2 separate regions of the Homo sapiens genome follow, and region 2 is linked to region 1. A link means that fine-mapping ties the variant in region 1 to the expression of a gene that starts in the linked region. Tissue or cell type: whole blood. Region 1 holds a variant in brackets; the other region holds the start of a gene. All regions are shown on one strand. Distances are between the middles of the regions.

What was found. PIP is the estimated chance that this variant, and not a neighbour inherited with it, causes the effect.
Region 2: CORO2A starts here. The variant in region 1 is fine-mapped to the expression of CORO2A in whole blood (INTERVAL, PIP above 0.99).

Annotation. Positions count from the first base shown.
Region 1 is chr9:98,124,486-98,127,239 of GRCh38, reverse strand. CORO2A (coronin 2A) reads left to right here. Exons shown (of 12, transcript NM_052820.4): 11 at 417-691; 12 at 2,335-2,754. The coding sequence ends at 2,466. Among named protein-coding and RNA genes, the nearest start is that of TRIM14, 6.6 kb to the right of the region's middle. The variant AG/G (reference allele first, on the strand shown) is at 1,205.
Region 2 is chr9:98,191,231-98,193,984 of GRCh38, reverse strand. It overlaps CORO2A (coronin 2A), which reads left to right and starts at 1,348. Exons shown (of 12, transcript NM_052820.4): 1 at 1,348-1,426. RefSeq lists silencers at 1,019-1,568, 1,639-1,688 and an enhancer at 1,841-2,495.

The sequences.
Region 1 (2,754 bases):
CCTGGGCCTCAGTTTCCTCATCTGTAGCCATGATGCCAGCCTCCCCTGCTTTCTGGAGGTGGTGAGAGAACTAATGAACTTGGTAGATGGTGGGGTGCAGTGTGGGTGGGACTGTCCTTACAAAGCAAGGGCAAGGTCTCATGTGAGTTTGAAGTGTTTGGGGGCTGCTTCAGTGCACGCACCGTGCTGTTCCTACAAACCAAGCTTCACTCTGAGGGTGGCACACGTGGGTATTTGTATCTGTTAGCCCTGCTCTGTGGGTTTGGGCCTGTCCACAGGTAGCTGTATTTCCCACACATGTTGCATGGGTCTGCATGGCTCTGAGTGTCTCTGCATGCCTGCCTGTGTCATTGGTGCCCCATATGCCCATCTTCCCGTGGGCACCCCGTCCTCACATGGCTCTGCTTCCCTTCCAGACCCAATCCTGGTGTCCCTTAGGCCTGGCTCTGAGCTGCTGAGACCCCACCCACTGCCTGCAGAGAGACCTATCTTCAATTCCATGGCCCCAGCCTCACCCCGGCTCTTGAATCAGACAGAAAAGCTGGCTGCAGAAGATGGCTGGAGGTCTTCCTCCCTGTTGGAGGAGAAGATGCCAAGGTGGGCAGCAGAACACAGGCTGGAGGAGAAGAAAACCTGGCTGACAAATGGCTTTGACGTTTTCGAATGCCCCCCACCAAAGACAGAGAATGAGGTGTGAAGGAGGACGGGGTGGGCCTTTCACATGGGGCAGCTGGGGTGGAGGGGAACAGATCCAGGCTGAGAAGAAGGGAGAAAATGAGGCATGAGAAGAATAACCAGCTGTGTGGCCTGGCCTAGTCACTTGACTCATTTTGTTAATTCATTCAACAAACAGGCAGTGAGCTCCATCTTATGCCAAAATGATGGGCATACATAAAGATGGTGGGAGGCTGGGCACAGTGGCTCACTCTTGTAATCCCAGCACTTTGGGAGGCCAAGGCGGGCAGATCATGAGGTCAGGAGTTCAAGACCAGCATGGCCAACATAGTGAAACCCCATCTCTACTAAAAATACAAAAATTAGCCGGGTGTGGTGGCGTACACCTGTAGTCCCAGCTACTTGAGAGGTTGAGGCAGGAGAATGGCTTGAAATTGGGAGGTGGAGGTTGCAGTGAGCCAAGATCACACCACTGCACTCCAGCCTGGGCAACAGAGCAAGACTCCATCTTAAAAAAAAAAAAAAAAAA[AG/G]ATGGTGGGGACCAGGTGACCAGGTGCAGTGGCTCACACCTGTAATCCCAGCACTTTGGTAGGCCAAGGCGGGTGGATCTCTTGAGGCCAGAAGTTTGAGACCAGCCTGGCCAACATGGCGAAACCCCGTCTCTACTAAAAATACAAAAATTAGCTGGGTATGGTGGTGCGTGCCTGTAGTCCCAGCTACTCTGGAGGCTGAGGCAGGAGAATTGCTTGAACCCAGGAGGCAGAGGCTGCAGTGAGCCAGGATCACACCACTGCGCTCCAGCCTGGGCAACAGAGTGAGACTCTGTCTCAAAAAAAAAAAAAAAAAAAAAAAAAATGGTGGGAAACCATCTGTAAAATGGAGAGGGTTTGACCTAGTGGGTATCAAAGTCTTTCCAGTTCTGACATTATAGGACTTTCTGTGCTTTCAAAGTCCACATTTGTTTAGTGCCTACTGTGTGGCAGATCCTGGGGTAGGCACTTTGATACAGCACGTGATTGAATTCTCTCAACAGCCCTGGAAGTCAGTCTGTAGTGGCTAAGAACACAGAGGCTGGCATCTCACAGATGGATTCTGATCCTGGCTCTGCTGAGTACTAATTTAGGGTCTTAGACCCAGAGACTGAATGTCTCTAAGCTTCCGTTTCCACGGTGGTACGGTGGGGACACTAGCACTGCCACCCTTATAGGGGTGTCACAACGTTCCAGTGGGATAACGAGGCCCTTAGGGCATCACTCAATATCTAACACCCATTCTGCACAGAGGGCAGTTTTCTGACCCCATTTTCCAGAGGAAGGAATGGAAGCTCAGAGTGGGTAAGTAACTTGCCCAAGGTCACACAGTTCAGTGGTGGCGAAAACACCAATCCCCAGACTTCAGAGCCAGGCATCCTTTCCTCTATTTCATGGAGGATCTATGGAAGCAAAATACATCTGAAACATTCCAGTCTTCTTGAATTTCATTTATTGGGTGAAGTAAACAAGGTGTTTGTAAAAGATCTATGCAGTGACAGCCCCATCAGGCCTCAGCCATGTTAATGTGACCGCCTCCACCTTTCTGAGTCAAAGAGGGATAGTGGTTTAGCTTTCAGCTGGTGTCCTGACACCATGGTGATCCTGCCTTCCGATCTTTCTTCCCCAGTTGCTGCAGATGTTCTACCGGCAACAGGAGGAGATCCGAAGGCTCCGGGAGCTGTTGACCCAGCGAGAGGTCCAGGCCAAACAGTTGGAACTGGAGATCAAAAACTTGCGGATGGGCTCAGAGCAGCTCTGAGCAGAGACCTCTGCCCTCCTCACCCTCAGGGACACCACTCGGCTCCATGGGGAGGTTTAGAACCAAACCACAAGTCCCCTCAAGGACAACCACTATTTCTATATTTTTTACCAGAAAACAAAACTCTCCATCGCTGAAAGAGATTCCAGTGGGACATGGTGCCGTTTTTCTGTTTGCCTTCTTGCAACAACAGTTTCTGAATTGACTTTGTTTTCAGATGATGCCTTCTGTTGAATTCTGTTATTAAGGGCCCATGATGAGCTGTAACTTCTCAAGAGGAAAGAACAC
Region 2 (2,754 bases), 67 kb before region 1:
CTCTTGCACGCTAACACCAGAAGCATGCGTTCAGTCTACCTGCTGGGCAATCCAGCTCCAGAAGGTCTGAATCAGAGCTGTAGGATGGGGTTTTCAGGACCATAGTGCACACTGGGCTTTGGGTGGTAGGCAGGGAGCCCGTCCAGCTCTGGGCAGGGGGGTGGTACAGTGGACTATGGAAGCTGAGTCACATTCTAAGGAGAGAATCAAGAGCTCCCTAAGTACCTTGCCACTCCAAGCCTCAGTTTTCTTATCTGTAAAATGGAGGTAATAATAGTGGCTAAATAAAGCCACTATTATTAGAAGCTTAGAAGAAACGATACAGATATGTAAAGTAGTAACAGTGTACTCTGTTATCCACTCCACAACTATATATTGAGTGGTTACTATGTGCCACGGAGCAGTTCAAGGCCCTCAAGATAACCCGTCTCTACTGAACAAAACCAAGAGCTCTTCACAGACGTGGTGTGGAGTGGAGTGGCTGTTAGCTTAGTAGCCGTGGGAGCCATACTGCCTGGGGTTGCATGACTAGCCGGGTGATCTTAACCTAGGTACTTAATATCTCTGTGCCTCAGCTCTTTTGTGTTAAATAGGTGAGTAATGGTATCAACCTCATAGGCCTGTGTGACAGTGAAGCGAGGTAATGCACAGAAGGCGCTTAGAGGAGTGCGTGGCTCAGTAGTGTTAGGTGGGGGTGGTACCCAAAGGTAGGGCCTCCCCATTGTCTAGTGTCCTCAGGGCTCTCCAGCCAGCGAGGCTGGCAGCAGCGCCCCCGGCTGGTCCCGAGAGAAGGAAGGGCGTCCTCCTCGGTTCCCAGCGGCGCTCCCGGCTCCTCTCCTCCCTGCGGACGGGGAAGCCTCGGTAACCGCTGTAACTGCTCGGGGAAAGGAGCGCTTCCCTGGCCGGGCTCGGCGCGCGCACTGTACCCGGCCGGGATCGTCACATCCAGGGCTCAAACAGCCTTAAGAGGCCGACGCGGTTACTGTCTCCATTTCACAACGGGGGAAACTGAGGCTCCGGGAGGTCAGGTTCCTCATCCCACACCACGCAGCGAGGGCACGGCGCGACGTGGGGCCCGCGGCTCTGCCTGTCCCCAGCCTCCGCCTGGTGGCCGGCAGCCCGCCCCAATCACTGCGGCGTGTGCGCGCCTGTTCCCAGCACGTGTGCGCGCCCCGAGACCCGCCCCGGGGAGCCAGGAGCGCGGTCGGGGTCGTGGGGGCGGAAAAGGGTGGCCAGGGCGGACCCGCGGGGCGGGCAAAAGGGCGGACCTTGGGCCAGGCCCCCGCCCCGCCCTCCGGCCCCGCCCGCCGGGCTGCAGGGGGAGGCGGCGGCGGCTCTGGGCGCCGGGAGTCGGCGGGCGGCGAGGAGCGCGGAGCCGGAGCTGGACGCCGCCGCCGCCACCGCCACCTGCGCGGCAGTCATCAAGGTAGGGCGGCCCTGCGCCGCCGGCCGTGCCTTCCCGGTCTGCGCGATGGGGGCGTCGGGCGGGACGTGCGCGCTGCGGCTGCAGCTCCCGGAGAGGGAGGGATGCGGGGCTCGGAGCGCGGGGGACCTGGCTTTCAGCCCCTTTGCGTGACCTTGCACAAAGCACTGCTCCTCTCCAGGCCTCAGTTTCCCCGTCAGGATAGCTTGCTCATTGGTGGCCCCCTTCTCGCGGGGTTGTTGGGAGGGGCCGCCTCGAGGTCCGGGCTCCCGACGGCTCGCTGCCCTCATGAGCACTGTCTGCACCGCCCACCCCTCCTGCCCGCGGTGAGGGAAGCTCACTCTGGGCGCGGCCAGCCGGTCCCGACAGGCCCCTGCTGTGGCCCGGGTGCTCCATGGGACTCTTGTCGGGACCCTCCCCCTCTTGGCTGCGTTACCTGCTGGGCCTCAGCTTCCTGGTACAGGAAACGGTGGGGTGGGGGGCATCCCCGGGTCCCCGCCAAGCCGGCCTGGGCGTGCATGTGGGGCATCAGCCGGCCCGCCAAGAGGGTTTACTCGTCTGGGGCTGGAGGAGCCCTAGGTTGGAGGTGGCTGGACTCCTGGCGGCACGACTGCCTGGACCAGCCCCACGTAGGCACCTCGATTTAGAGAGTGGTATAGGATAGCTCCTTCCCCTTCCCCACCCGGGCCAGGTGCTGGTGCCTAGCTCTGTGTCCCAGAGCTAGTGTGTGATAAGGTGTGACACACACTAGCTGGTGTGACAAGGGGTGACTGGCGGCCACGCCTGGACCTCAGAGGGGTGACAGTGCCAAGGTGCTGTGTCCGCGTGGCATTAAGGGATGGGGCAGAGCACAGGTCTGAGGGACTGTGGTCCCAGGCTCCCTAGGTAAAGAAGACCTATGGCATCTGGCCCAGCCCCTCTGTAAGATCCCCTCTGGAAGGTCTTGCTGCCCCCTTGCACACTCCTTGTGATAGGAATCTCACTAGTTGTAAACCAAGCTGGAATCTGCTACCCAGTCACTGCCTCTCCTGCTGGTCCTGCTCTGGACACACAAACAACCTCTGACCCTTCCTCCCTCACCCTGGGGCAGTGGTCAGGTCCCTTAAATATGCTCATCTCCAGACCCAGCAGCCCCAGGCCCAGCAGTTTCTCCCATCAGATCCCAGGGAGCCAAGGCAAGAAGAGGGAGCCGAGGTGTCTGCCCTGGAGCAGGCTGTGGGGCCTCCGCTTTCCTGGGGCTTGTTCAGAACCCACCTGTGCATCAGGACTGGAATGTGTCTCCCCAGCTTCCTGCCCCTCCTGGGGACCGTCTGAGAGGTCCGGAGTGAGGA